Homo sapiens: one gene and its partners. Each later gene encodes a partner of the first gene's protein in a complex. Links are inferred from orthologs where the notes say so. Each region holds a gene or a part of one and is shown on either strand. Other genes may lie near its edges.

Region 1 (11,849 bases):
CTACAGTTGAACAGTGGGACTATTTCATTAGATAATTCCTGAAGAGAAATGCTTTGATAACAATACAACACTAAGATGATTTTGTTAAGGAGCCCCTGCTCCATTTACCATGATGATGATGATAACATAATAATAATAATAATCGCAGCTGCCACTTACTATGTGCCAGACATTCTTCTAAGCAGTTTTACATATATTAGCTCCATTCCTCATAACAATCTTGTAAGTAGTATTAATATGATATTTAAATTCCCAGTTTACAGATGAGGAAGCTGAGGCACAGGAAGTCTAAATGAATTGCCCAAAGTCCATGCTCTTGATTCAGAGTAGTTTCTCCTCATGTGAGTAAGCCCTATATCAGGACACTTAAATAACTACATGTAGATATTTGCTTCTTTTTGACTTCTTAGGGGCAAATTATCCCATCACTCTAACTACTGTGTGTGAGGGAATCTGCTAATACTGTCCTACTGAGTGTCCAAGTTACAAACCTGTAATGATGTTCCTGATGGGCTTCACCAGTGCGGTAAAGCCAGAGACTCCGGGCTGTCTGTGTTCCCACATGGGCTGCCATATAACAAGCCCACTGGCCAGACGGAAGGTGAGGTCAGATTCCTAGGGGGGAGGAGAAGATATATGTCCAATAACTGACATGTAACAGCTGCTTAAAGGGACCAATCAATGCAAGGATTAACATCACTCACAAGGTTATTTTCAGAGTGAATTTATCTGCCAAACCTTCTCTCATTAGTCAGATGAATGTTTCTAGAGTAAACCAATGACCCAAAGTTATCACTGCAATTACTATGAAAATCCCAGCTGTCTGCTTTATCCAAAATTAATGACCAATCAAAACATAGCTTTGGGCAAAGCATGGGATACACAAACTATTGTTTTGTGTTTGCAGTGATTGAAACTTGTTTATTTCAGGAGCCTTGGCAGATCTCTTCACTTTGGTTATTATTATCATTCCTCTTAATTTTTTAGTTGTCCTTATTCTCCCTCATAAGGCAAAATACTCAGATACTGGCTATTTTGACATTCTATTGTCCAGTCCATCTTTTTTCTTACATTTTATGGAATCAGGCACATATAATTTGACCCTTCATAGTGTATTATTTTGTAATGTTGTCTTCTTAACAACCTTTAATTTCTTGAGGGCAAGGATAAATCAAGCATCCTCCTTCCCTCTCAGCCCCGAGCATCATCACAATGTTTAACATAGCATTAGGAACTGGGTACACAACAGATACTCAATAAATACTTGCTGAATAGGGCTGACTTTACAACCCATGCTCACTCAGTTTATCTATGATTTAAAGTATCTTTCAAGAGCATATCCTCTGCTATCATATTGTATAAGTACAAATACATGACATTCTGAGATTATATCTTAAACACTTCAGTCTCTCAAAACAATGTAAAGATAGAAGCAGAGAATGTGATCACAGATTAACGAATACATCTGAGACCCAGGAACTCACTTAGAGCAGTGATTTGCAACCCCAGCTTGCATATTATAATCACCAGGGGAGCTTTTAAATCTAAGAGGCCCAGGTATCACTTACCTCTCCTACCCAGACCCATTAAATTAGAATCCTGAGAGATTTTCTAAAGATCCCCCTGATGACTCTCACACATAGCTGAGGTTGAAAACCATTGGGATGGAAGGAAAAGAACTCAGAAGCAACTGGAAAAATAGAAAAACAAAAGCAACTCTGTACCTAGTGAAAAGAAACCTAAAGGCTAGACTGGGATTCTGACACCACTTGGCAACAGAGCCACATGGTTCCCACAATGGGAAAGTCTTTAGAATTCCCTGTGGAAGTATTAGAAAAGCACATAAAGCATTTGGCTAAATTCATTCTGCATTTATTCTGTAAACATTTATAGAGCACCTACCATATACCCGGTACTATTCTAGGTTTTAAATACAACAGTGAACAAGGCATACAAAAATCTCTGTTCGTAGTGCAGAGAGGAAGTGAAGGGCTGTGTCAGACAAAGTGTTGTCATTTTAGACCAGAGGATCAGGTGAAGCCTTATTGAGAAAGTGACTTTTGAGTAAAGTTCTGAACAAAATGAAGGAGCTGTCATGTAGCTATCTCCAGGAAAAGTATTCCATGAAAGAGGATCAGCAAACACAAAGGCCCTAAGTGTGCCTAGTGTGTTCAGAAACAGCCAAGAGACTGTGTGCCCAGAGTCAAGTGAATGTGAGAAAAGCAGAAAAAAAAATAAAATTGGAGAAGTCATTGAGTGTCAAATAATATACTGCCTGATAGGTCTTGATAAGGACTTTAGCAATTATTAAGATGAGAAGCCACTGAAGGTTTCAAGTAGCAGAGTGACATGACTGGATATATATTTTAATAGGTTCACTCAGGCTGTTGAGAATAGTTTGAGAAAGGGCAACAGTGAAAGAATAGACTATTTTGGAAGCTATTGTTATATAGGTGAAAGATGATTAGATGGGGGTACTAATAGAGGGCAAAATGAGAAGTGGTAGATTCTCAATGCATTTTGAAGACACAGCTTACAGAAATTGCTAATAGTCTGGAAGTGGAGTGTGAGAGAAAAAGTTGTCAAGGATTTTTGGCTTCACGATTAAGAAAGATAGGTAAGATGAAGGAGGAGCAGGTTTGGGGATTTCAGAAGCCTAGTTTTAGACATGTTAAGTTTGAGATATCTGTTGAACATTAAGCTAGAGATACCGAGTAAGCACTTAGACAGACAGCTGTGGAGTTAAGAGAAGAGTAACCCAAATTCCCTTGAAATGGACACGAGGAGGTCTGCATGGTATTGTATGTAGAAGCAGGAAATTAACATTAAGCAAATCTTATCAGATTTGTCTCTACAAATACAGGAAGCCAAACCTCAATTGACCTGGTTTTATTGATTAGTTTCTGAGTTCAGTCCTTTTCCATGTTTCTCATGAGAAATCTTAACACAAGTAAAACTCCTGTGGAAACTGCAGCAGGGAGTGATCTCTCTTATACTGAAATCCTGGGCTTTAACATCTGATCTATTAGCATGACACAGCACTCACTGACTGTCATGGTCATCATTTTGTTTTACTAAATACATCTCCAAGTAGATTGTATATTTCTTGAATACAAGTTGAGATCTCCTTCTTCTGTGCATTTCCTGGAGCATCAGTACAATACCAAACTAATATGTTCATTAATTGAACATGTTTTACCTTCTCCAAATAAATCCAATCACTCTTCAGACCTGAATGCCTGTAGCACCTGTGGCCTTCTCTTGTGTTGGTATCTTCCTTTGTAAGTCTTCCTAACTTGGATAAATGTATAAACTCTGGGCCTCTAATGTCTCTTCCAGAGTTTCTTTTAATGGAACACACAATGCTATGTATACATACACAAGCAGAAACTCAATAACTGGAGAGGACACTCTTTATCATTCAAACAGTTGTAAAGCAGGTAGTCTAGAAGGATCCTGAGAAAACCAGAAGTGTAAGTACACGTAGAGGCAATATCCCCACATTTCAGATGCTTTTCTTGCTTTCACTGAGAATCTGTTTCCAGGATGTCATAAAGCAATTCTGAATGTATTTACTAGTAGCTTACAGAGATTTAAAGAAACAACTATTATTTTAAGTTCCATTTTAAAGTTGTTTACTTTACACATATGGATTGGTTAAAATCCCCTGAAGGGCTTGCTTTTTGTTTTATTTCTTGCTGTTTCTCCAGCACATTGAACAGTAGCTAGCATACAGCAGGCACTTGATAAGAATTTGTTGAAAAAAAAAAAATAAGTGAATGTGGCAAAATCATGACAATGTTGATACCATATTTAAAGAAGATGCCTTAGTTTAACAAATATTCGTCATTTTTCACTGATAAAATTAAATTTGGTCTAAAATTAATAATATATTAAACAGGATTTTCAGACTGAATTTTATATAAACTATTTGAGCTAATTATAAATTAAAAAATATAAAATATGCATTGAATAATACACTGTGTTACAAAAGGATGAGTCATTTATATTAGATTTATTTACAAATTAGTGAACTAATTTATTCACTTAATATTAATTAAATACCTATTAAACACAGATACTATGTTAGCTACCACGGGTACAATGATAATTCCTACAAACAGACCATTTAGAATCTAGTAGGGGAGAAAGCCACATAAAGGGATGATAATAAACAAAGTATAACAATAAAGCTGTACCTAGAATATTATGGAAATAGAGAAAGAGGGAAAGATGGATCTCAAATGAAGTCCTAAAGGATAAGTAGGAGTTTACTAGAAAGAGAAGTGAGGTATGAGGGCATTCCGGTCAGCAAGAACAACATGAGAAAAGATCTGAAAAAAAGTATGTTATGTTCTTGGAGAGACTTCAAACATCTGGAGTTCACAGACAGGAGAAGTAGTCAGACAGGTCATAGAGGGCCCAGTTTACCAGACTAAGAAGCTGGAGTTGTACTCTCTGTATGACGAGAAATTAACAAATTATTTTAAGTATGTTGGTGATATTGTCTACATTTTTGATAGGTCACCTTGGTGTTGAGGTTAGATTTTATGAGACAAGCCAGGAGACTGAATCTAGTTAGAAAGTGGCTCAAGTAAAGGGTCCATGTAAGATATGATACAAGCTTGGGTTAAGGTAGTAAGTAGGGATGAAAAATATGTAATAAATTTGGGCAATATTTAGGAGAAAAAATGAGTGGGACTCTGTGATTAGTGGAATGTGCAAGTAAGGATGAGGGATAGTGAAAGGTAGTTTGAGTTTTTGTGAATACATCCATTATCTAAAATATAGAATCTAGGGACGGGGCTCATTACAGGTGAAGTTTGAATTTCCCATGGATTATTTATTTGGAAAAGTCATTTGACAATTTGTTCTAGAGGCAAAGATAGGAGCCTGGATTTGAAATATATAATTAGGTGACCTCAGCCTGCAGGATACACATGGTAAATGAAGTCAGAGGAAGTCTTCCTAGCAGAAAGGAGAGTGAGAAGAACAAAGTGTCAAGAATGCATCTCTGGGGACCCCCAATGTTAAAGCGGCAGACAACAAAGATGAGCTCTCAATAGAGATAGAACAGACAGAGTCAGAGATGCAAGAAGAACCAGAAGGGTGTGGTGTCATCAGGAGAACTGAACCTTTCAAGAAGAGGGCATGATGATAGTTTTAAATGCAGCTGAGGTTTAATGAAATGAGGGCTGCAAATAGAGATTAGATTCAACAACTCAGAAGTTGTTCATGACCTGAGTGGAAAAGAAAAACAACTCTGGTACAGAAACCTAAAAAACAGTGTAGTTTTGTAGAAAATCAGATAGGATTGGGTTTGAATTCCATCTTGGTTACTCACAGTCTTTACTATTATCTCTCTGGATCTCAATTTCCCTCTTGGTAAAATGGAGACAAAGATACACACATCCCTGTGGGTAGTTGTAAAAATTAGAAATGGCAGTGAAAATTTTCTGTCACATAATAGAGGCAAATAGAAGCAAGAATAAGAGATTGAAGAGTAAGTAAATGGGAGGTGAGGATATGGAGGCATGGGTTCATGCTTTGATTACATGTTGGCTTCCCATGCCTCCTATAGCACCATGTCTTATACAAGCCCCATCCTGCAACACTAAGTGCTGAGTGGGAACCTGAGGGGAAAAATCAAGGAAAGGACTGACAAGCTGGGCAGCGCAGCACACTGGGTTTAGAGACTACAGCGTTGCAGAAACATTAGTCTGAATGGTTGTGTGGTTTCCCCAGCAGCATGCAGATTTCTGGGTAGGGATAGAAAATGTGAATTTTGGTCTTGATCTGGAGTTGGAGTCATGAAAGGCAACTGCAAAGAAGCATAGGGATTAAAGGATGTTAATGGTGCTGGTGAGGGGAAGTTTACATGGGTAGGGAAAGACCATAGGCTCCAACAGAACCTGATAACGGCAGGCAAATGAAAGATGTAAGGCGGTGGCTCTCAATCAGGACCAATTCCCTCCCACACACCCACCTGTGAACATTTGGCAACATCTGGAGTCATCTGTGGTTGGCACAACTCAGGAGCAATGGGGTGTTACTGGCATCTAATGGATGGAGGCCAGAGATTGTACTAAATATCCTACAATGCATAGGACAGTGTCCCATAACAAAGAATTATCTGGCCCCAAATGCCAACAGTGCCAAGGCTGAGAAATCCTGATCTAGAGATTGTACATTCCCCAACAACTTGAAAAAACCAGACATCTCTCAAACAGAAAAGCCCTTGTGGCCAAAATTACTGACTGAATGCTTTTTATTCTCTACAGCTTCAAGAACAATGCTTTCCCCATAGCAATGACAAAATGATTAAACTATAATGATAATATAATAAAAATGATAAATATATTATTACCACTAACTATAATTGTTTATTTATATCAATCACTGTGTAGTATTTTGTATGAATTGTCTTACTCCTTTATAAATGCTCCATTCCCAAGCCATAAGTTAAACATGAGGGTCTTAAGTCAGCTTTTCGAATTATTTGAGTAGTCACTCCTGAAGGGAGATCTTGCTCCTTTTCTACTAATAATACATAATACCAGCAGCAATAAAATACCAACACTAAAGACAACTAACATTTGTTAATGAATTTCTTTGTATCAAGTTGAATACTATAACTTGTTTAATCTTCACAATGCCCTATAAATTTATTCTTAGGTCCAATTTATACTTGAGAAAATGGAGGCTTATAAATTATTTGCTCAATGTCTTACAGTAGAGCACAGCAGGCACTGGATTCAAATACAGGCTTATCTGTTTCCAAAACTTAGACTCACAGCTATGTCTTAAAAATAAAATTACATCCACCCTGGGCACTCCTATATTCCCACATTTTTCCAGGTGATATTTGTCAACATATAAACATCTTTTTTGGGCTACTTTTAAAGAAGACTTGTTTCCTGTCCTCTCCATTTTAAAGGCTTCATTTCTAAAAATGCTGTTTTTAGCACTTGGATCAGCTTCCAATAATGACAAGTCTACTCAGTGTGTCAGTCATTAAATATTTATTGAGAGTCTCATATATGACAGACACTATTTGAGACACTAGAGATACAGCTGTCACCAGGACAGGCAGACTCCCTTCACTCAAGGACCTCTGTTCAGTGAGGGTGAAGGGCAACAAACATGCAGACAAATGCATAAATAATTCCAGGTACTTGTAAGTGCTAACAAGGAAAAAAATGTAGGATAGCATGCTAGTTGCTCGAGAGTAGCCAGGGAAGTACTTTCTGAAGTGTTGCCATTTGAGTTCTGAGTAAACCAATGACAAGTACATGGCTATGTGAAAATCTGAGTGTAGAAGGTAGGGTCAGTGTTTCAAGTTGAAAAAAACAGTGTAAGGATCTGAACACAAAAATGCACTTGTCAAGTTTGAGGGTGAGAATCCCACAAGCCTGAAGATGGTTAGTGAATGAGAGAAAGGCCAGTGAGATAGAGGGAGATGAGGCCCAGGAGGTGCACAGGGGTAGGTCCTGCAGAGCTCACAGGCCAGGTGGACAGTCCCTATTAAAGCAGTGCTTCCTACTAAGTATCACCTGTATAAAATACTTTAAAATGGGAAGCTAGAGATTTTAAAATGGCAAGTTAATTTGACTTGACACCTAAAGAGTTTAGTATGTTTGATGGGCAATGTGGCCAGTGTATGTGTTGCATTTTGGGAATTTATAGGTGGTTTCAAATCTATTTCTCCTAGCAATGGACAGAGTTAATGGAAAGTGAATTTTTTAGGAAACTAAAAATGAATGAAAATACTCACTAGTCTGTTCCCTTCATGGTGACTGTTAATGTTCACAACCACCTTCATAAATATATTACTAACTTGAACCACTGCTAACTTGATCCATTCACTGGGTTATAATATTCTATTAAAGAGCAGATGAACATGTCAATTCTTATCTTAGCACTTAAGTGAAATTTGTTAATTTATTCATTCACAGAAGTAACGAATAGTTCTTGATTTCTTTTCATGCATTGGAACTGCAGTGTGTGTCTTACATATATATTCACCCCGTGTTAGAGCAACTGAGGGGTTAAGTAATATCAACAAAATCACACAGCTAAAAAGTGATGGCACAGTGATTTCAAATTATATTGTCTCCTCCAAGTGGATATGATTGTATTTTGAGATAACTGGTTTCCATGTAATCCTATGTTTTGTATTTTAAGCATTTAAAAATATTTTAAAAAGCAATTCTTAGGCTATACCCTACTGTCTAAAAGTCCATAGAACATAAAAAGTTAAAACTTATTTTTTTTTCATTTTAAGACAGAGTCTCGCTTTGTCACCCAGGCTGGAGTACAGTGGCACGATCTAGGTTGACTGCAGCCTGTGCCTCCCAGGTTCAAGAGATTCTCCTGCCTCAGCCTCCCGAGTAGCTGGGACTGCAGATGTGCACTACGCCTGGCTAATTTTTGTATTTTCATTAGAGATGGAGTTTTGCCATGTTGGCCAGGCTGGCCTGGAACTCCTGACCTCAAGTGATTCACCTGCCTCTGCCTCCCAAAGTTCTGGGATTACAGGTGTGAGCCACCGCGCCTGGCTAAAACTTAGACCCTGTATTATAAGAGAGGTAGTTACAAGATGCTATAAAAATGCAAAGGGGGTAGGAATGAAGTCTAGATGGTGAGGTCTAAGGAATAGCTTCATGTTAAATATGATATTAAAGTTGCATTTTGAGGACTATGACAGGAATAGAGCGGGGAAAGGAGAATAGAGCAATCAGCAAGGGCATATTCAGGGAATGGCTGTCATGGTTTCAAATGCTGGATCATGAGGTGGCCAGTAGGGACCAACAGTCTATAAATCAAGAAAGCAATTTAAACCCTACATCATGCTTGACCTTTTATTCTATGCTTAATATGTTGGGCATTATCATGAGGCAGAGGGAGAACCACTGAAGATTTTTAAGTAGGTAAAGGCTTTGTGGAAATTTGTGTTTTTGAAGCAATGTTCAGTAGTTTAACACAGAAATAAAGTTCTCCATGCCTTGACTTGCTGTAAGGTCATACAAAGACATGCCCAACCAAATATGGAAATATCATTTGAAGTCTACCCTCACCACATCTCCACCCACTCCAGCTCTAACACTGGGTTTCTGCTTACCTTGATCCTGTGTACCAGGGGAGCAAACAGAAACACGAAGAGCTCCACAGTAGCCATGGAGTTCTGGAAGATCTTTCTTCGGTTGTTCTCTTCTTCGTCATTAGAGCTGCTTTGGCAAGGCTGCCCTGGAGAACCCTGGTTTTCAACCTGGTGGATGAAAGCACTGCTGCTTCCACCCCAGCTGGAGCCTCGGTCTGTACCCCCAAACCGCTCATTGTTGCAGTCCTGGGGGGCCTCCAGAAGCATCCAGTGTAGAGTGTGAAGGAGCTTTGTCTCAGCAACACCCAATTTATCCTGGTGGCCTGCATGGGACAATTACACAGGCAGGTTAAGAAAAACTCTGTGACCAGGGCAATAGATGTCAACAATGGGTCTGGGAAGAATATCCCTCCTTTCTCTATACTTCTTACAACCACTGCTAGCAGGGCTCATTCTTGCTTTTTGGACTTCCCTACTGGCCGCAATCTCTGCAGAATGATATGCTGCCATGGGGGCAGAAACTGCTGAATCACTTTTCTTCAGTTAGGTACCCAAATATATTTCCAAATAGGCAGCGTAGTGGTTAAAAATATAGACTCTGAAGATAAAAGCAATCCTATTTTAGACAATGTGACCTAGAAAGGTCCCTCTATAGGAGTGATATTTGAGCAGAGGCTCAAACAAGGGGAGGAAATGGGATGGAGAAGAGTATGTACGCTAACGTGGGGTACATGGGTAGGACACATTGCCAGATGAAAAAAGCAATCTGTAAAATATTCTAAAAAATAGTTCTTATGCACATGTGCACACATACTCATACACAGTACTACAAAGCTGGAAAATGTCTGAGGCAAATATGCCCAGTTCATGAGAGTGGTTGCTTTAGGAACTGAGAGAACAAAAAGGATGACCTTGGCTAGGACTCATCTTGGGCAGGTGAAGGTCTTAGCTTGCCTCTAATATTTTAATTTTTTTGTGTTGTTTTTGTTTGTTTGTTTTTGAGACGGAGTCTCACTTTGTCACCTAGGCTGGAATGCAGTGGTGCGATCCCAGCTAACTGTAACCTCCGCCTCCCAGGTTCAAGTGATTCTCCTGCCTCAGCCTCTCGAGTAGCTGGGATTACAGGTGTGCACCACCATGCTCAGGTAATTTTGTATTTTTAGTAGAAACGGGGTTTCACCATGTTGGCTAGTCTGGTCTCGAACTCCCGACCTCAGGTGATCAGCCTGCCTCGGCCTCCCAAAGTGGTGGGATTACAGGCATGAGCCACCACACCCAGCCTATCTTAATGTTAAAAGGAGAATATATTCATATATTACTTGTAAAATTAAAAAATTAAAAACAAGACAGCCAGTTTCTTTATCGGTAAAATGAAAATAATGAGTATAAGTGTGAGGAGGATTTTGTGATAATTAAATGAGATAATATATGCACAGTGCTTGAGAAAACAGAAACTACTCAGTACAGGTTATTATGATGAGTGTTGAACACAAAGGGCAATCACATGCAATAAAGAAGTAATGCGGGGCACCAACCTAGCTTGTTTCGGTTTGAAAGCAGGGTTGCAGTGCAGTGGAGGACATGAGGCAAAGCAGCTTGCACCAGTTCCCATCTGGAAATGCTCTGGATGGCTTCAGAGAGAGCTGGAGAGAGGCCATGCAGCTTGTTTTCTACCAACACTCGCTCAAAGGACTGTAAATACAAAAACAAAAACAATAAGAAAAGCCAAAATCCAAAACCACGTAAACTAAGAAATTGAAGATTCTGGTTAGTGAAAAAATGAACAGCAAGGTACTGTACCCCTTAAAAGATGCAAATTACTGGACCAAATTCTTTAGGGAGAACTCATTGCATTTTCTTGTATATGTTGATGTGCAATGGGTCAGTAATAATTTTCTATTATCTACCCATTTGCAGGCTTTTGAGCCAAAGTAAATGGCTTGAATTAACAAAACGATTTTTATTTCTGTTAAAATAAGCTTCCTCTAACAAATAGGAACAAAACATTTAACCTCATGAGATTTTTGGATGTATATTTTATAAAATGTTGCCGAGTCATCCAAAAGACTGTCACAACTGCAGACCAAAATAAGTTTTTTGTGAAAGTGTCTTGAGAAATAGAATTTATGTCAGTTTCTTCAACTGGTGTTAAGATACAACTTTGGAATCCCTGATTTATCTCATGGCTTAGCAATGACCCGGCACAGAACACTCTCTACCTAATGCCTGGAACAATAAAAGATACTTAATATATCTGTGGAATAAAGAAAGAAAGGAAGGGAGAGCAGGAAGGAGGGAGGGAGGAGGAAAATAAGCCATCTTTACTTTGCTGGTTATTAAATTTTCTATCCTTGCCAGGGATACTCAGAGAGTATCAGAGAGTGTAGCACTCCGGAACAAGTAACAACTCTGACCTACTTAATTATTGTTTTTTCTTTTGAGGGAGGAGAGAATATCACTGTAAGGTGTTGGAGAAAATGTAGTTACGAAATATTGGAATAAATTTAATAAACATTTGGCATGTAAGAACAGGATTGGTACTTGATGCCCCAGTCAATAAAATTGTATAAATGTTCTATATAATAATCATAAACAAGTCCCAAGTGTTCAAACTGTATTATTGGAATTATTAGGATACCAATAATGTGAGAAAGACAGGTATCCTAATATGGCTTACTACAGAGATATCCAAAGAAAACTTTTTACTTTTTGATTCAAAAAAAGAAAAATAAGAAATTCACCTTTATAA
Region 2 (12,226 bases), on another chromosome or scaffold:
ACTAGCAAACCAAATTTAACAACACATCTTAAACAAAGATTATCCTTCATGTAGGAGATAGCTTAAAAAAAAAAAAAGAAAACAAGAACATTTATCATGGCCAAATGTGATTTATCCCAGGGATGCAATGTTAGTTCAACATACACACAAATCAATCATGTGAGACATCATATCAACAGAATGAGGGATAAAAACCATATGATCATTTCAATTCATGCTGAAAAAGCATTTGATAAAATTCAACACCTCTTCATGATAAAAACTCTTATAAAACTGGGTATAGAAGTGTGAACCCAAAAGTATCTGAGACAGGTCTTAATCAATTTAGGAAGTTTATTTTGCCAAGGTTAAGAACACACCCATGACACACCCTCAGGAGGTCCTGATGATATGGGCCCAAGGTAGTTATGGTATGGCCTGCTTTTATACCTTTTAGGGAGACATAATACATCAGTAAACACTTGTAAGATTTACATTGGTTTGGTCTGGAAAGGTGGGATAGCTTGAAGCACAGGCTACCAGGTTGTAGGAAGATTTAAAAATTTTCTGATTGGCAATTGATTGAAAGAGTTGTTATTATCTAAAGACCGGGAATCAATAGAAAGGAATATCTTGTTTACAATGATAAGAGGTTGTGGAGACCAAAGCTTATCATGCAGATGAAGCCTCCAGGTAGCTGGCTTCAGAGATAATAGATTATAAGTGTTTCTTATCAGACTTAAGGTCTGTGTTGATGTGAATGCTGGTTGGCCTTTCCTGAATTCCAAAAGGAAGGAGGGCATAATGAGGCATGTCTGACCCCTCCATTCCCATCACGTTCTGAACCAGTTTTTCAGGTTAACTTTGAAATGCCCTTGGCCAAAAGGAGGGGTTCATTCAGATGGTTGGGGGGGCCTTAGAATTGTATTTTTAGTTTACAGAAGGAACATACCTCGATATAAACAATGTTATATTAAAAACATGAATGGATAAGTAAATTCAGTAAAGTTGCTGGATATAAAATCAACATACAAAAATCAGTAGTGTTTCTATATGCCAACAGCAAACAATCTTAAAAAGAAATCAAGGCCAGGCTTGGTGGCTTATGCCTGTAATCCCAGCACTTTGGGAGGCCGAGACAGGTGGATCATGAGGTCAGGAGACTGAGACCATCCTGGCTAACACGGTGAAACCCTGTCTCTACTAAAAAAAATACAAAAAATTAGCCAGGTGTGATGGTGGGCACCTGTAGTCCCAGCTACTCAGGAGGTTGAGGCAGGAGAATGGCGTGCACCTGGGAGGTGGAGCTTGCAGTGAGTTGAGATCGCACCACTGCACTCCAGCCTGGGGGACAGAGCGAGACTCTGTCTCAAAAAAAAAAAAAAAAAAAAAAAAAAAAAGAAAAGAAGTCAAGAAAGTAATGCCATTTACAATAGTTACAATATAAGATAAAATACCTACAAATTAACTTAACCAAAGAAGTGAAAGATCTCTACACTGAAACTATAAAACATTGATGTAAGAAATTGAAGAAGGAAATATATTCCATGTTCATGTACTGGAAGAATTAATATTGTTAAAATGACCATACCACCTAAAGCAATCTATAGATTCAATTCAAGCCCTATCAAAATACCAATGACATTCTTCACAAAAATAGAAAAAAGCAATTATAAAATTTATGTGGAACCACAAAAGACCCAGAATAACCAAAGCTATCTTAAGCAAAAGGAACAAAACTGGAAAAAATCACATTACCTGACTTCAACTTACACTACAGAGCTATAGTAACCAAAATGGCATGGTACTGGCATAAAAACAGACACATAGACCAATGGAACAGAACAGAGAACCTGGAGATAAATCCATACATCTACAGTGAATTCATTTTTGACAAAACTACCAAGAACATATATTCGGGAAAGAACAGTCTCTTCAATAAATGGTGCTTGGAAAACTGGATGTCCATATGTGAAAGAATGAAACTAGACTCCTATTTCTCACCATATACAAAAATCAAATCAAAATGGATTAAAGACTTAAATTTAAGACTTCCAACAATGAAACTACTAAAAGAAAACTTTGGGGAAAATTTCTAGGACACTTAACTGGCAAAGATTTCCTGAGTAATACTCCACAGGCACAGGCAACTGAAGCAAAAATGGACAAATGGGATCACATCAAGTTAAAAGGCTTCTGCACAGCAAAAGAAACAATCAACATAGTGAAGGGCTAACCCACAGAATGGGAGAAAATATTTCAAACTACCTATTTGACAAGGGATTAATAACGAGAATATATAAGGAGTTCAAACAACTCTGTAGGAAAAAAATCTAATAATCCAATTCAAAAGTGGGCAAAAGATTTAAATAGACATTTCTCAAAAAATGTCATACAAATGGCAAACGGGCATATGAAAAGTTGCTCTACATCATTGATCATTAGATAAATGCAAATCAAAACTACAATGAGATATCATCTCACCCCAGTTAAAATGGCTTTTATTCAAAAGTCAGGCAAAAACAAATGCTGGAGAGGATGTGGAGAAAAGGGAACCCTCATACACTCTTGGTGGAAATGTAAATTAGTATAACCACTATGGAGGACAGTTGGAGGTTCCTCAAAAACCTAAAAATAGAGCTTAAGATCCAGCAATCCTCCTTCTAGGTATATACCCAAAGTAATGGAAAGCATTACATTGAAGAGAGATCTGCACTCTCATGTTTATTGCAGCACTGTTCACAATAGCCAGACTTGAAAGCAACCTAAGTGTCTATAAACAGATAAACATGTAAAGAAAATGTGGTACATATACACAAGAGAGTACTATTCAGCCATAAAAAAGAATGAGATCCTGCCATTTGCAATGACATGGATGGAACTAGAAGTCATTATGCTAAGTGAAATAGCCAGGCACAGAAAGAACAACTTCACATGTTCTCATTTATTTGTGGCACCTAAAAATTAAAACAATTGAACTCATAGAGATAGAGAGTAGAAGGATGGTTAACAGAGTCAGGGAAGAATAGTGGGGGTGGAGGGGCAATGGGGGAGGGTTAATGGGTACAAAAAATAGTTAGAAATAATGAATAAGATCTAGTATTTGCTAGCTCAGTAGAGCGACTGTAGTCAAACATAATTTAATTGCACATTTAAAAATAACAAGGAATATAATTGGATTGCGTATAACACAAAAGAGAAATGCTTGAGGTGATGAATACACCATTTACCCTGATGTGCGTATTACACATTGCATGCCTATATCAAAACATCTCATCCATAAATATATACACTTACTATGTATCTTCAAAAATTAAAAATTGAAACTAAAAAAATTCACATGGCAGGTGTATTAGTCCATTTTCATGCTGCTATAAAGGACTGCCTGAGACTGGGTAATTTATAAAGGAAAGAGGTTTAATTGACTCACAGCTCCACATGGCTGGGGAGGCCTCAGGAAACTTAACAATCATGGTGGAAGGGGAAGCAAACACATCCTTCATCACATGGTGACAGGAAGGAGAAGTGCTGAGCAAAAGGGGGAAAAGCCCCTTATAAAACCATCAGATCTTGTGAGAACTCACTCACTATCACAAGAACAGCAGCATGGGAGTAACCGCCCCCATGACTGAATTACCTCCCACTGGATCCATACCATGACACATGGGGATTTTGGGAATTACAATTCAAGATTAGATTTGGGTGGGGATGCAGTAGGCAAAATGGTCAAATATAGCCAAGATAAATTTGAAGAACAAGCACTGGTGGGAGGACTTGCCTTATAAAGACTTATTATAAAGCTATCATTATTAAAACAGTATGGTTAAACAGGCAAGTACAAACATACCTGTGGTCCAGAATACAAATCTGGCAAATAGCCTCATATATACATAAAAAAGTTGATTTATGATCAAGTTGGCATGGAATTAGAACCTTTTGGGGAAGAGTTTAATAAATGGGTAAGATGCTACTTATTCATAGGGGAAGAAGCAGACCCCACTTCACACATAAACATAAACATAAATTTAAGTTGAAACAAACACTTAAATGTGAAAAGTAAAACTTTAAAACTTTTAGAATGAAATATAAGAATCTGTTTACAACCTTGGGCATAGGAAAGCACAAACTATAGAGAAAAAGATTGGTAGGCTGGTTAAACTTGGCTATGTTTACATTTTAAAACTCTTCAGTAAAAGACTCCATAAACAAAGTGAAAAACAAGCTGTAGACTGGGAGAAAATCTGCATTTTCATCTGGTATCATTTTCCTTCAGCCTGAAGAACTTCCATTACTATTTCCTATAGTGCAAGTCTGCTGGTGGCAAATTCTCTCAGTTCTCTTCCATCTGAAAATATTTTTATTTTATTTTCATTATGAAGGACTTTTTTGTGTGTGCCAAATATGCCACTGCATTAACAGTTTTCTTTTTCTTTTTAGTATGGTAAAGATGTTAGTTTATTATCTTCTGATATCCATTGTTTCTGATTGGAAGTCAGTGTTAATTTGCATTGATGTTCCCTGTATGTAATGTGTGTCATTGTATATCATTCTCTGGTTGGTTCCAAGGTTTTCCCTTGTCTTTGTTTTTCAGCATTTTGAATCTGATGTGCTTAAGGCTTGACTTTCATGGTATTTTTCCTGCTTGGGGGTTTGTACTTCTTTTTATATCTGTAAATTTTTTTTGTCACCAAATTTTGGAAAATTTTCAGCCATTATTTCCTTAAATATTTGTTCTTAAATATTTTAAAATAATATATTAATATATTATTAGTATTTTTATCCTCTTCTTCTGTGAGTATAATTATATGTTATAACTTTTGTTATTGTCTCACAGGCCCCAGGCTATGTTCCTTTTCCTCTAATTATTTTTTTCGATCTGTTTTTCAGATTGGATAATTTACAGTGATTTATCTTTAAGCTTACTTCATATTTCATCTATTTTCTACACCCTGCCATTAATATCATCTAGTGAATTTTTTATTTCACATATTGTACTTTTGAGTTCTAAAATTTCCAATGGTTTTTTAAAAATATAGTCTCAATTTCTCTACTGACATCTTTACAATCATTATAAGCATTTTTTTTTCACTGCACTGAGCAGACTTACATGATTTAAAATCTTTGTTAATGATAACATCTGGATCATCTTGGGTTCATTTTCTATTGTCTTTTTTCTTCACCATTGGTCAAGTGGGTCACATTTCCTTGTTTCTTTGTGTGTCATGTAAATTTGGATTGTATCCTGGACATTGTGATTTTAGTGTTGTGGAGACTCTGTATTCTGTTATTTTCCTCTGAAGAGTGTTGACTTTTTTAGCAGGTAACTAACTTAATGGGATATAAACTATAAACTATCAGTTTATTGAATATCAGTTTAGTTCTTGAATCCCTAGTTGGGTTTTTGTTGTTTGCATGCAGGCTTTCACATGTGTGGTTCAGAGATCAGCTAGATATTTGGGCAGAGGTAAATAGGTGATATCTCCTTTACTGTGGCTCTCTCTTTCTCACAGTTCTCCCTTCACTTTCTAGCAGCTATAATTGCTTTTAACTAGGTATTTTGGCATTTTGGGTCAATCAAGCTGTGAGTATGCTATTGGAGTCTTTAATCACTAATTGTATGGGGTGTTCCTCACACATAGTGTTTAATAAACATAATTAAACCAAAATGGAATGTTGAGCATAAAGTGTTAAGTTTTAAAAAGATATGTATAGTGTGGTATTAATTATAGAAAATTAAAAAACATGTAAAATAATATATGTTGCTTATGGAAATAGACATATATGGTGTGTATGTAATTACCCTATCTAAAATTTTATCTCATTCAAAATTTCAAACCCTTCAATACAAACTTTCTCCTTCCCTTTGTGTAATATTTTTCTTTTTAGTACTTGTCAGCACTGAATATATTATGTTTTACTTACTTATTTTTTGTCTTTCCACTAGAATATTAGTTTTAAGAAGCAGATTTTTTTTTTTGTCTTCTCTGTTTGCTACATTATAACAAGTTCCTAGAGCAGTGTTTGACATACATAGGCACTCAATAAGTAGTTGCTGAACAAATAAATAAATAATATAAAATATAAGGACATAACCACAAATTTAGAATAATTTTTTATGGGGGCTTCTAATGTCTCTAAAATGTTTTTTTCTGAAAAGTAAAACAATGCAACATGACAAAATATTAAGATTTGATGAGACTGGGTAGTGGTAACATTAGTGTTCATGATTTTTAAAATATTTCTATGTTTGAATTACTTCATTAAACAATAGAATGGGCAAAAAGTTTGGAGAAGACTTTGAAGAGCATTATGTTATAGAAGTCAAGGGAAGAGGGAATTTCAAAAAGAAATAGGGAGAAATTTCAAATGCTGGCATTAGTCACCAAGAGATAAAGCAATTATAATTTACTATTAGGAAATTATTAGTGACTATTGAAGTAACCTGTTTCAGCCACAATTTGATAGCAGGTAGGGTAGTGAGGAAATGGAGAAATGGAGGCCACTTATTCAGTAAGATGATAGGCACAGCTTTTTGAGGATGAAAAATTTATGCATGTTTGCAAGCAGGATGGGAAAATCCATTGAAAAGATGAGACTTAAAATGCTGGGAAAAAGAAGATAATTAAAATAGCAAATTCTAGAATAAGTAGAAATGTTTATAATTAGAGGCATAGGTTTGGAAAAAAAGGCATTGCATCTGGCAATGAGAAGAGGCACTACCTCTGCAATAGAAGAAAACTAAGCAGGAAGGATTGAGATAGGTGGAGACAGAAGGAAAGGTGAGGGAGTTCATTGAAGTAGTAAGGCCATATGTCGGAATGGTGAAACTGAGTAATGGATATGGCCCAGGTTAGTGAGTTAATGGGCATGTCAGAAGGCTCAAGCTGTGAGTGCCTAGGTTGATGATTAGAGTCTCAATTATATGGGTGCTATCAGGCTTTGGAGGCTCCGAAGCATCAGAACTAACCTGAATGGATTGGGTGCATTTGAGGAGTTTCAGCAGTAATGCTAATAGCAGCCATCACTCATATGTGTCATTGTTCTAGATTCTCATATATATACTTATTTATTCCTGACAACCTTTAATGTGACTATGATATGACCATTTTTCAGGTAAGGCAGTCGAGGCATGGAGAAGTTAAGTAACTTGCACCAGGTTACACAGATCATGAGAGGCAAAGCTGGAATTCAAACCCAGGCTGTCTAACTCCTCAGTCCATGACTTAACACCATTATACTCTCCCTTAACTCAGTAACGGGAGGGTTAATTGATGACAAATGAAAGATTGTTAAGCAGATAAAGGGATAATAGGTTTCCAACACATACTTTGTCCTTTGTTTCTGTATTATCCAAGACACCTCTTTTTCATGTGTGTTAATTTCCAATTACTGTTTTCTTTATCAAAGCCTCAGGCTTCCAAGAATTTTCTGAATAACCCATTGAGCTTTCTTTTAGTCATACAAAGTGTTTGTCATCTTCTCAGGAATGTTCATTATATTCATATTTTCTTTAGAATGATTCCAATTTCTTTTTACTCAGAACGAACTCTTTGGCATCATGCTTCACATAATCATTTATCTTTTACTAATAAATGGAACTTCTCTTTGGGATGTGGTTTTGGGAATGAACAATGACATGGAATGATAGCTGATTAGCCAGAGCAACCTGCCAATCAGCAGGATGTCAGAGTCCAATCACATATGCAACCCAAAGAGCCAATTCACTAACCCTTTATGAACATTTTTGCAAATACCATGAAACTTGAGTGCTGTGTGTGCATCATTATGGGCAGTTTCCCTGTTATTTGTAGATTTTTTTATTTGCTACTCAGAAGCATCTTTCCTTGATGTTTGTTCATAATATTTTTCTTAATTGTCCAAGATTTCACCTGAATAGTTTGATATATTACACAGAATTTAAAATTCTTTCCCTAAATAGGATCTTTTATTCTCTGAGGTGGAAAACATTGATTTATCAGCATTAAAAGTCATTGTCAACACTTACCGTTTTGTTCCTGTAACTTTTACTAAATTAACCTGCTATGACCATGCCCCTCAGCTTTAACAAATTAAACTATTTGAATGAAGAATGGACATAATGGTTGGGGATTGTGCCGTACTTTTAGTTTACAAGGACTTGCGCATCCATTCGATCTGCCCAGTAACTCTTCAGGTGACAGGGCAAGGTTTTAATGTTCCCATTTTACAGATAAAGAACCGGAGGTGTAGGGAGATTAGAAGATGGTCCTTGAGTGAGTAAGTGGTAAAAGTGGGTCTTGAATCTGGTTCTTCCCGACTCCAAGTGTCTCTCCATTCTGTAGTGGATTCTTTGGATATCTTCCTATTAATATGCACGATGCCCTCGTCTATTGCCTTCCTTTCCCGCTGCCTTCGGTTTTCCAGTCGAGGGGCTTCCTAATGTGTCCCTGTCCAGCTGGGATGGCTGCAAGGGAGCACACCTGGGGTCTTCCTGTCTTCAGTCTTTCATCTTCCTTTTCTGTGGCCCTTCCAGCTTCACCATCCGTGGACATCTCCTCCTTCCTTCAGCCCCAACTTCTAAAGTCTTGTCACAGCCCCCTGGCAGTGGGACCTCCCATCCCCAATCATCAGCAGGAGAGCCCATCGCAGAGGGGAGGCGAGGGCAGGGACCGCAGCGCACAGGGAAGCCATGCTGAGGGTTCCTCCTGCATTTTCTTCCTCGCGGTCCTCAGGAACATCCTCGCGCCCTCCGGCCCCGGCGCTCCAGCCCGCCCCGGATCCGCCTCCCTCTCCTTCCTCCCCGAGGTTGAGACGAAGCGTGGGACGCACCTGGGTCCCTCTCTGGTCACCCTGCTGAGGCTCCGGGGGCTGCTCCGGGAGCAGGATTTACAGGCCCGGAGAACGCCAATGGGAGATCCAAATGGTCGGGGACTCCGGCGCTTTAAGAGGCTTTTCTCTGGGAAACACCCGTCCCCTCCGTGCGCCTTATGAATGGAAATACTCCTCCCCCGGTCGAGCCCATTTTCCCATTTCACCAGGAGCCGCAGCCTGCTCTCTCCTTTCGGTCTCCCCGCCCACATCAACGCGGGCAGCTCCAGGAGGGGACGGACAGGAAGCCTTTGGCCGCCTATTAAATCCCACCCATTTCTCCGGGGGCGATTTCCTAACCTTCCGGGACCGAATTCTGCAATTTGATGTGCGTTTTGTCCGAATGGTAGCGACACGGGCCTAAGGGAGGGGGAAAGCGAGGGGGTGGGGGGTGGGGGGTATGCACTCTTTTCCTCGCAACATCGCTGGCGGAGCGAGGGAGCTCACACGACACAGATTTTGGGGCAAAGCCTTTCCAACTGGACAGCACCATGTCCACCAAAGCGGAGCAGTGTAAGTAGCAGCCGGCCCGGCATTCCGGCCCGGCCTCGGCTGGGAGCTATTGCAGCTGCGGCGTTTGCGGCTGCTGGGAGACCTTGGCATTGTGCTGGTGCGGGGGTGGGGGCTGAGGTTGGGGCGGGTGGGGGGTGGCGGAGAGAGAAGGTGGGGGAGGGTGGACGTTAATGGCAGCGCGGCGCTGTCCCCGGTGCTGAAAAATAATACGGTCTTCCTCGGGCTCCAGCGGGGGTTTCTCAAGACTCAGAGACCCTGCGAAATGAAATTAAAATGGGGTCATTCTCGGGAAAAAGAGGCCTCGTATCTTTCAGATAAACATTTCAGTATCTCTTGTTGGAGTGGGGGAAGGGGGGTAGCGGCAAATCAGGGGCGGGGAACTGTCAGTTGCAACCAAAGCCTGCCTGGCCTTCTGAGCATGCCCAGTTCTTGGTGCTGGAGCCATAGGGGAGTTTGAGTCTGCAGTTTCCACTTCGGGTGGAAGAGGCAAGAAGGGAGAGAAGGGGGAGGGAGCAGGGAGCCAGGCAAGAGGAAAATTAACTCACTAATGCCAACACCAATGTCAAAACCAACCACAACCATGCGGTGCTTACAAGAAAGTGAAAGGAGCTCTGGGAAAATGACCTAATTGATCTAATTATTGTTCCAAAGAGCAGGCTTCCTTTGTAGGGCAGCCCATAGCACCGGAGGATTTTGGTTGTCCCAGTAATGACTGACTGTGTGCGTGGTTGGAAGCAACCTGCTAACTCCTTGTGGATGGAGTAAGTTTCTAATATGGTTCCCATAGTCTGTCTTATTGCAGTGCGCACTAGTAGGCCTTCGGTGTGTGCTTGGTAGGTTGATCAATGTGAAGCCTTTTTCCGAGTACACTTGAGGGCTTGAGGGATTCAGGAGCTTAAACTTCAGATTGTAAATAAAAGACGTTTTTATTAAGCAGTAAGTTTGAATTTTTAACAATATACCAGAACTTATTCACCTAGATTGACTCCTTTCTTCCAAAGCAGTACACGTTATATGGATAATGCTGTCACTACTTAAAAGTCTTTGTAATTCTTCTTTGGAATGGCTACTAAAGCCGGTTTTTGAGACACACAAAACAGTAGTCTCATTATTTGAGGGCAATATCTTATATATGATAAAATGCAGTATGTCATTTATTCACCAGATAAATTAAATAAACTGAAGGCTTATAGAATTCTCAGATTGATGGTTCATTAGAAATTGTGCATGCCCACCTACCACCCAGTGCTTTTACTTCTTTATGTTTTTTTGGAATCCGGAAGATCTGAGTTTCAATCTTAGTTTTGCTACTGTTTGACCTTGGGCAAGATAATTGACCTCTCTGAACTTTATTTCCTCATCTGTAAACCTGGGCTAATCATGCTGATGGGGTTGTTGTGGGGAATGAGAGAATACATATAAAAGGTTTAGTAATGAGCCTAGCACATAGAATGTACTCAATAAATGATGGCTATGATAATGACAAGCATTGCCCACTTTTAAATAGTCCATCTCCTCTAAATAGTTAGGAAGCTCTCTTGTGATTTTTTTTGCATGTTTCTGAAAGTTAAATCTACATTCAAAATTAAGTTTTGCTTTTACAGAGGTTTTTGAAAAAAATTGGGTGCATTCTGTTTTGAGGAATGGTAACATAGTTTGAGTCCATGTAGAACCTCCCACTTGAGAATATCACATCCTGATATTATAATAAAGCCAAGTGGTTTTATTATAGTATGGTTTTTAAAGGAAAAAACACCACCTGTCATTTGATTGTGTAGTTACATATTACGTAAGTAATTTCAGGCTAAAGCCAGTGAGTATTACTGTCCTCTTCCTGTGTTTTCTCTTCCTTGTTACATTTTGAAATGGACTGGATGCTTTGTCTTGTCTCTTTCCTGGGCAATGAATAAAATCTATCTATGGACTTGATTCTGTAGAGCAATTAGTGGACTTAAGTAGCTATTTTAGACGTGTTAGTGAAACAGATTTTTTTCATCTGTAGAGGATGAAAAGGACACCATATCTGGAGCTAGAACATGTGGACTTGAGCTTTGTATGTCCTTCTGATTAATTGTGAGACACGGGGCAATTAACTTAATAGTTTTGTGCCTCAGAGTTTCCATCTTTAAAGTAAGGAATTGTAGTAGGAGCTATCTTTGCTTTAGTCTTAAGGGTTTGGAGGGCAAAGGAGGTAAATGGGAGTAGGCTGTGGAAAGGTTAAGGATGCTATGGATGTTTTTAGATATCTGTATTTAGAATGAAGGTAATTAAGGAATCTCTTTTCTTTTTCTGTTAATATGCACTAACATGAGTGGATTGACATTTTCGTGTATGTTATGTACCTGAAAATAAAGCAAAAACACAATAGGCTGCATAGTTGATGTTCATGAAGGACAAATACTTTTTATAAAAAGAACGCAGATTGGCAGCATTTTATCCTTGGACTTGGTAGAAGTTTAGCTACGTGTAAGGAGCAAGAGAAGGAAAGGTCAGGGAATTTTTTTTTTTCTTCTACTGGGTGTGAAGACTACTGGATAAGGAGAGAATGGGAGAGCTCGTTTCTCCTCTGCATTCAGGATGCACATTACCACTTTCCTAAGGACTGAGGAGGGAGAATTAGGCTTAATATAATGTCAAAATATTATTTCTATTACTCTTCTTCTTGGAGCTTCTTGATGTTGATAAAGGTTTCACTGGTTTGACAAGTAGACATAGTTTTGTTGGACCAGCAAGAGAAAGTACTTGCATTTCAACCCAAACCAGCTTACTCGATTTACCTTTGAAATGTAATGTATCACAGAGATATGAAAAATGATTTCTGTTTTATGTAGTGGCATTTTCTTTTGTGAGATAAGTAATAGTGATGAAGGAGAAGCTAGTGGCCGGG
Region 3 (8,082 bases), on another chromosome or scaffold:
TGATTCAAACACAGCAGAGAATGACAGCATCAAGACAACGTAGATGGTGGTGCCAGGTCATAAATTACAAGCTGAGTCGGTTCAATTTTATCCTGTAGGCAATTAGGAGCTAGCAAAGATTTCTGAGCAGTATGTGACTTTTGGAATCTGTGCTTTAGGAAGTTGACTTGGCAGCAAAGGAGGGAATTGTCTATGACAGAGCCTGGAGGCAGGTTACAAGCTGGAGGAAGTTACCGTGGTGTGAGCACAAGGCAACAAAGGCATGGACAGAGCTGGGGGCCAGATACTGCAGGGACAGATAGGAGAGGTGACCTGGGGAGAATGCACAGTCCTTGGTATTCATTTAAATGGACAAAAGAAATGATGCTGTCAAAAGTACTTCCATTGGGCCAGGCGCAGTGGCTCACCCCTGTAATCCCAGCACTTTGGGAGGCCGAGGCAGGTGGATCATTTGAGGCCTGGAGTTCAAGACCAGCCTGGTCAACATGGTGAAACCCTGTCTCTACTAAAAATACAAAAATTAGCTGACCGGTAGTGGTGTGCACCTGTAATCCCAGCTGCTTGGGAGGCTGAGGCAGGAGAATCACTTGAGCCTGGGAAGCAGAGGTTGTGGTGAACCAAGATTGTGCCGCTGCACTCCTGTCTGGGTGAGAGAGTGAGAACCTGTCTCCCAAAAAAAAAAAAAAAAAAAAAAAAAAAAAAGTACTTCCACTGGTCCATGCCTAGGTGGTCCCCACCAAAAACGGTGATCGTGAAATAGACATGCTCTTGGGGTCAGGCTGAGTTTGAGGAGGCAGAGGAGAAGAAAAATAGTATTTTGAGGGGGCAGCAACAATGTCACAGGTGTCATGCTATGCACTTTCCTAAGTCATCTCATGTAACCTGTTTTAATCCTGACAATAGTCTAATTAGGACATTTTCATTGTCTTCATCTTACAATGGAGGAAACTTGGGTTCAGAGACGTGAAGTTGCCCATAGCTACATATCCACAGGTTGCAGAGGTGGGTCCCAACACCATGACTGTGAGGCCCCAGAACCACACCTTTCCTCCCATACCCTCACTGCATCCCCCCTCGCCTTTACTGTGGGTCACACTCTCCTTCCTTTTTGTTTTTTTTATTGCATATGCTAATGAATGCACAGGTTTCTGTGACACTTAATAGTTCCCGAATTGGAATTTTTTTAGTGATTTTCTAGTTTTTTTAATTATTTCAAAATGAAAGGGGTGAGCAGCACGTTTTTTTCCCAAATGACATCATTAGTTGTCCATGAGCACAATTAAAAAAAAAATCTATCGTGAACATAAAGAATCAAGTCCTGAAAAGGATGTTTACTTAGCATCTGTGGCTAGGACACGTTAGCCAAAAGTATCACTGATGGGAATATCATGGGTTTTTAGGAGTGATTACAATAGGGTGAAGCAATACCAAGTGGCTCATAGGACTCATTAATTCCACAGCCCCAAAACCAATAAGCCATTCAGTGTCCTCAGTCAACTTACGGTTTGGAGGAAGGACAACCATGAAATCTGTCGTGTGCAAAATGAACCCCATGACTGACGCGGCTTCCTGCGGTTCTGAAGTTAAGAAGTGGTGGACCCGGCAGCTGACTGTGGAGAGCGACGAAAGTGGGGATGACCTTCTGGATATTTAGGTGGATGTCAATGTAGATGAATTTCTAGTGGTGGAAACCGTTTTCTAATAATGTCCTTGATTGTCCAGTGAGCAATCTGTAATTGATCTATAACTGAATTCCAGCTTGTCACAAGATGTTTATAAATTGATTTTCATCCTGCCACAGAAAGGCATAAGCTGCATGTATGATGGGTTACTATCAATCATTGCTCAAAAAAATTTTTGTATAATGACAGTACTGATAATATTAGAAATGATACCGCAAGCAAATGTATATCACTTAAAAATGTCATATATTCTGTCTGCGTAAACTAAGGTATATATTCATATGTGCTCTAATGCAGTATTATCACCGCCCCGCAAAAGAGTGCTAAGCCCAAAGTGGCTGATATTTAGGGTACAGGGGTTATAGCTTTAGTTCACATCTTTCCCATTTCCACTAGAAATATTTCTCTTGAGAGAATTTATTATTTATGATTGATCTGAAAAGGTCAGCACTGAACTTATGCTAAAATGATAGTAGTTTTACAAACTACAGATTCTGAATTTTAAAAAGTATCTTCTTTTTCTCGTGTTATATTTTTAAATATACACAAGACATTTGGTGACCAGAACAAGTTGATTTCTGTCCTCAGTTATGTTAATGAAACTGTTGCCTCCTTCTAAGAAAATTGTGTGTGCAAGCACCAGGCAAAGAAATGGACTCAGGATGCTTAGCGGTTTAAAACAAACCTGTAGATAAATCACTTGAGTGACATAGTTGCGCAAAGATGTTAAGTTTCTTAAGAAACCTTTTAATAACTGAGTTTAGCAAAAAGAATAAAACTATATAGCTCAATTTATTTAAAAAAATCTTTGCATGTGTGATGTTATCATTGGCTTCATTTCTTACCCAAGGTATGTCTGTTTTGCCATAAATCAGCAGAGTCATTTCATTCTGGGTGATCCTAACACACCATTGCTACGTTAGATTTGAAATGACATCTCTGTTAAAAGAATCTTCTATGGAAATAATGGTGCCCTGCAAAATCTTCCTTTGAACTCACAGGTTAGGGATCACACAACTTACTTAATCGTTTTTTGTTTTTGTTTTTTTTCCTTATATGTCAATGGCCCATGTCCTCCGGGAAAATTAGAAAAGCAAAATGATTACAAAGTGCTGTTAGATTTCTTGTGCTGGGCCAGCCAAGTAGAAGTGGACTTGACTTGGACCTTTAACTATTTTATTACAGATTGGACATTTGCTGTTCAGATGTTTTTTAACAGAGGGATTATCTCAGAATCCTGTGACCTCCAGGTTGTTTTATAATCTATTTTTCTCTATTTAACATTCCTCAGATAGATAGGCAAATAGGACATTCCTTCTGTGTCACAGAAGTATCGTGGTAGTGGCAGTCTACAGTTTATATGATTCATTGTAACTATGAGATAAAGAACAACCAGTCATGTGGCCAAAAGGATTAGATTTGATTTGATGTTCACTTGGAGTTTACTTTTTGTACATACAAGATAAAATAAATATTGGATTTGTAAAATAATTTACTCTGAGTTGACCATTTTTAAACCCTTTTCTTGGTGGGGCAGGCACTCGGTAGCAGCACATTGCAAACCTGGATTGAATATTCAGTCCATAATTAGTTGGCAAAAGCTGTGTCCCTGATACTCATTTCAACTCAATTCTCTGAGCCAGAATGTTCCTTTCACACTTGTGCTGATAAGGCTGAGTGAATACCCTGTGCCCTCTAAGCCTACAATGAACAGAAAAGGCACTTACAGGTCCAGGGCATGGGTCTGTACTAGTGCTGCATAAAAACAAGATGTTTTTGGCTCATTACACTTGAGTAATACAGCTTCATTCTCACGAAACTGCTGAGCCCTTTCTAAAACGTCTGGAATTGATGTTCAGCAGAACATCATTGTTGTTCATTCTGCAGTGAAGCCAGGGGCAGAATACCAATGTATTTAAAGCCATAGCACCCTATATTTTCAATGAAGCGAAACAGTCACACACTTCCTGTAGGACTCCTCTCTACGATTTTCCTGAAACAGGTAGAGCATATGCAAGCCAGAGAAATTAAGCACCACCCCCATTTAGATTTTACCCCTAGATATGTAAACATATGAAAAATCCCATTACACAGATGGGAAAACTTGGGTCACAGTGTTCCCTGGTCCTTAGGGAAGCCAGACACTGATACTAATCCTGTCATCACGCCACCCACTGCCTTTAATTAGAGGGTGCTGTCAGTTCCAAAGGCACCAGAAAGCATATGGGGTGGAATACTTACTTGACTCAGAGCCCCTGAGAGAGCAGGCCACACATGTGTGACCTGTATGGCACTTCAAGGAGACTCAAAGGGAACAAGGATGGACAGAATGGAAGGGCCAATGCTATTCACTCTATTTTTTTTTTTTTTTTTTTTTTTTTTTTGAGACGGAGTCTTGCTCTGTCACCCAGGCTGGAGTGCAGTGGCACGATCTCGGCTCACTGCAAGCTCCACCTCCCGGGTTCACACCATTCTCCTGCCTCAGCCTCCCAATTAGCTGGGACTACAGGTGCCCGCCACCATGCCCAGCTAATTTTTTTGTATTTTTAGTAGAGACGGGGTTTCACCATGTTAGCCAGGATGGTCTCGATCTCCTGACCTCGTGATCCACCCGCCTCGGCCTCCCAAAGTGCTGGGATTACAGGCGTGAGCCACCGTGCCCGGCCCACTCTATTCTTAATGGTACTTCCAGACCAACATACATCAGCAGTGTCTGGCTGGCTGTGCCTTGGCCAAGCTGAATGAGATAAGGGTACACAGAAGAAAAACCAGTGTTATAAAGCCTTACAGGAAAGCAGCTTTAAGCCAGTGGAATGATGTGTTTGCCTGTTTCCTTGTAGGAAGTGGCATTCTATACATGGGTGGTTTTCAGTATATCAGTAAGCAGTGGAACTGTTTCTAAGGCCTTCAACAGATCCCAAAATTTTAACCAGCCAAAAGCCAGGCAGCCCTCGTTGAAGTTGAGGTGAAGATGAAAACGGCACTCATGTGGTCTCTTCTCACCCACTATTATGGGTTGAAGTGTGACCCCCAGAAGGATAGGTTGAAGTCCTAACCCTTAGTACCTGTGAATATGACCTTATTAGGAAATAGGGTCTTCGCAGATATAATTACTTATGAGGAGGTCATACTAGAGGAGGGTAATCCCTTACTCCAACATACCTGGTATCCTCTGAAGACACAGGCATGTGGGGAGGATGGCCATGAGACGGTGAAGGCAGAGGCATCGGAGCTATGCTGCCCAGAGCCAAGGGACACCTGGGCTACCAGAAGCTGCAAGAGGCAAGGAAGGCGCCTCCCAGAGGCTTCTAAGGGAGAATGGCCCCCTGTCAACACCTTGATTCTGGACTTCTAGCCAGAAGAACTGTGAGAACATACATTTCTGTTGTTTTAAGCTGCCCAGTTTGTCTGCTTTTTTATCATTTTATCATTTTAGTTTTTTAGTTTAGTCTCTGTCTTCTACTAACTCCCTTTCCAATTCTACTTTAGGACTCTCTAACATTGCACCTCCTTCTTCCTCTATTTCTTATTCATCCCACATAGCCACAGGTACACCACAGGCTTGATCTTGTCCACCCCAGATACCCCCAGCCCACAAGATCTCCTTTCACACCTCTAGAAATACATTTGTATGCACTTCTGACCTCTGCCTTGAGTAGTTCTTCTATGATGCTTCCCAAGCTCTTGTTTCTATCTCCCAGGGAACTAGCAACCCAAAAAGCTAACAGCTTTCTCATGTGCACTTCCCCACCTCCCTTTTCTTTTTATCTCAGTGTTTTTGTACATGTTCATTCATCCCCTCCCCATTCTTTTCTGTCTTATAAAGAACCTCGCTTCTTCTCCAAGTCTTACTTCTCCACCTGAGCCACAGATCTCTTTATTTCCATCAAAGCTTTCTCAGCATCTTCTATATACTGTGCTGTGCCTTGTGAAGAAGCCAGAGCCGAGCATACCAACATGATCTTTTGCTTGAACTGTAGTAGGAGAGACAAGACAGATGTGCGGGTCCCCATGATATAAGGTAATTGTTAAATCTGCCATAGAAAGGTGGAGTGGTGATCAGAGGAGGCTTTTGGGGTGGTGATGCCATGTGAATTAAGCATTAAAGAAGGAATACTTGGATTTAAATTGTCATAGATGGGGAAGTAGCAGACAGAATGATGCCTGGAATAACAAAAGGAAAATTATCAAGGAGAGCGTCAGTTGACTCTATTCAATGAATTCCCAAGTCTTCTGAATAGGTGTGCAAAGGCAAGACTGGAGACTTGGTCAAGGGCACAAAGAACCTTTAATGCCCACATTTCATGTGGACAGTGATCAGTAGAAAAGGGGAGTCCATGGAGGTGGAGAGGGAGGGAGATTATGGTAATAATGCAAGACCAGGCTTTAGGAGGAGCACGCCGGGAGCAATGTGCAAAATGGAATTGAGGAGGGAGAGACAGATGCAGGGTGAATCTTTACAATACCCCAGCTTTCCAAGAAAATTGTGGTTCTAGTTCTCCAACCTCAAAGTTGAACTTCTGTAGCAGCATGGGACATGGAAGGAGGGTGGAGATGTGACAGGGACTTACCAGACAAAAGGGGCTGCAGGACCTCACCACACTGGGCTCATTCATCTTGCACCAATGACTTGCTCTTCCAAACAACACTGCCCTTTGTTAATCTTTTCTTGAACCAGGACCCACAGAAATACACTGACCATTTTCTGGACCTAATTCCAGAATACGCTTTCTCTCCTAGCTTTCTCCCACAGGCCTTATAATTATAAATTTTATTTAACTTACCTTTTTTGTTTGATTCTCATTTCCCTGGACCACTTGTTAATCTTTTACATTATAATTGCTTGGGGGTACTACTCCTGGATCTTGCAAGCTGAATGGAATGTACAAGTTGGGAGTTTACTAGGTAGAGTTTTGCAGTTGATGGGAGAGGGATGGCCCCTCCAGACTCACCTGCTCTTAACAGCTATCCCCCTATGGAACACCCCTTCTCTCTTTGACTTTAGGGTTGCATTTTGAGATGTGGGCATCAAACTGCTCAGATTTTATTGCGGGGATGGGATGAAGAAGAAGAATAGAGGTGCTGGAAGAAGAAAACTAAGGCAAAAAGAAACAAAAGTTCCCTAGAAAGACACACATTCTCCCTTTATCTACTGACCACAATGGTCTGGAATGAGGACTTATCATAAATAATGACAATTAATTTTTCCTGGATAGAATTATGGTCCATCACCATTGACACCTCTTCACTCCCTATCTCTGACCTAGCTGGTTCCAGGTCTCACCATATATTTTCCATATCATCTAAGCACCTCAATAGTCCCCAGACTTCTCTCCAACCATGCTCAAGGTCATGGCTTCCTATTAAAAAAAATTCTGTAGGCAGAAAAGTGCTTTCAGTCTCTCTCTTCTCTCCAACGTGAACCATTCTATCTGCCCTCCTTCCTCCTTGGCTTCAAACACAGATGCTCTCTCTCTTCCAACCCTTTCCAACAGACCTTTCATCTGTGCCAACTCTTGTTTCTGACACGCCACCTTCTTATTGCACCCCCTACATTCCTGAACAGAAGTCACATCCAGCCTGAACATGCTGCACACTTCCTGATTCTCAGGACATTCTTCTTCCATCAGGACAGAGCTCAGCAACGTCCAATGCAGATTCAGTACAAAAGTTACACCAGAGAGATCTCCTTTCCTGTGATGATCCTCTGAGAATTCAATTCACAGGGGGAAAAAAAACAAAGTAGCTTTCCAAAAGACAGGTTATTCTCTAATTAGGAAGAACTGTCTGAACTCTGCCTATAGTAATTTATCAATGGAAAGTCTAAATAACACAAGACACACTGTAATTGCCTCAGATCGACTATTGTCCGATGAATGAATCATCAGGTAGTTCACTTACTTACTCATCCATTCAAGATTGGGGCAGTCACGCTTCTTGCTCTGTGAGTCTACAGATGGATGCTCTGATCTCATGGTGTTTATGGTCTATTGGGGAAGCAGAAAATAAACAGGTAAATATATAAGTCAGAAGGCTTTAAGTGTAATGGAGAAAAATTAACTTGACTGAGAAGGATAGGCCTTCCTCTTGGATGTAATTTAGTCATTAAGGGACTCACTGCTCAGTTGCCATTTCGGCAGAGACCCGAGGCAGTGAGCATGGCAGCCATGGAGATGTGCTTCCCACAAAAGGTGCTATTTGCTGACAGCTTCTAGCTGCTGGTGCTTTCAGGATCTGCCTCGGTCTGTTTTTTTGTTTTGTTTTGTTTTTTACTGTAGTAAAATGTATTTAGCATAAAATTTGCCACTTCAACCATTTTTAAGATTTTAAAGTGGTGTTAATTATATTCACAATTCTGTGCAACTATCACCACCACTATCCAGTTTCAAAAATTGTTAAC

The links.
Region 2: the proteins of UNC80 (region 1) and UNC79 are in contact, whole or in part, in a cryo-EM structure (PDB 7W7G), measured with the Mus musculus proteins. The link is inferred for Homo sapiens from one-to-one orthologs. Residues at the interface, in NP_780719.2 of Mus musculus: Gln23, Thr24, Trp27, Ser31, Leu34, Arg35, Pro36, Ala80, Pro83, His84, His87, Ser94, Asn95, Asn180, Ala183, Leu187, Phe190, Leu191, Arg337, Leu340, Gln341, Pro342, His343, Arg1317, Asp1320, Glu1321, Asp1324, His1545, Val1546, Asp1547; in XP_030102533.1 of Mus musculus: Thr120, Tyr123, Ser127, Ala130, Thr131, Leu168, Ser169, Ser172, Met175, Ile176, Gln179, Tyr180, Tyr207, Tyr211, Gly212, Pro213, Ser214, Val390, Cys391, Glu394, Glu402, Phe405, Arg472, Cys541, Asp917, Phe920, Ser965, Glu966, Phe967, Ser968.
Region 3: the proteins of UNC80 (region 1) and NALCN are in contact, whole or in part, in a cryo-EM structure (PDB 7SX3), measured with the Homo sapiens proteins. Residues at the interface, in NP_115893.1 of Homo sapiens: Lys1979, Asn2004, Glu2005, Cys2006, Asp2007, Leu2128, Arg2129, Leu2130, Pro2131, Pro2134, Arg2135, Ile2138, Asp2139, Phe2142, Phe2145, Ser2146, Glu2179, Asp2184, Glu2185, Met2187, Leu2188, Asn2191, Asn2194, Ile2198, Leu2199, Glu2202, Ser2226, Leu2227, Ser2228, Gln2231; in NP_001337678.1 of Homo sapiens: Asn639, Met643, Val644, Ile646, Lys648, Leu649, Pro650, Phe653, Val655, Pro656, Lys657, Ile658, Arg659, Glu660, Phe662, Met663, Lys664, Gln665, Phe666, Ile667, Arg669, Val711, Ser713, Arg715, Ala716, Arg717, Leu719, Lys722, Glu723, Ala725.

What each region holds. Positions count from the first base shown.
Region 1 is NC_000002.12:209,774,832-209,786,680, reverse strand, and holds part of UNC80 (protein unc-80 homolog), read right to left. Parts: intron 10,793-11,849; coding exon 10,636-10,792; intron 9,424-10,635; coding exon 9,122-9,423; intron 616-9,121; coding exon 492-615; intron 1-491. UniProt on the Homo sapiens protein: Auxiliary subunit of the NALCN sodium channel complex, a voltage-gated ion channel responsible for the resting Na(+) permeability that controls neuronal excitability.
Region 2 is NC_000014.9:93,421,713-93,433,938, forward strand, and holds the start of UNC79 (protein unc-79 homolog), read left to right. Parts: upstream 1-9,226; 5' UTR 9,227-9,317; coding exon 9,318-9,339; intron 9,340-12,226. UniProt on the Homo sapiens protein: Auxiliary subunit of the NALCN sodium channel complex, a voltage-gated ion channel responsible for the resting Na(+) permeability that controls neuronal excitability.
Region 3 is NC_000013.11:101,048,867-101,056,948, reverse strand, and holds the end of NALCN (sodium leak channel NALCN), read left to right. Parts: intron 1-1,460; coding exon 1,461-1,654; 3' UTR 1,655-3,173; downstream 3,174-8,082. UniProt on the Homo sapiens protein: Voltage-gated ion channel responsible for the resting Na(+) permeability that controls neuronal excitability. NALCN channel functions as a multi-protein complex, which consists at least of NALCN, NALF1, UNC79 and UNC80.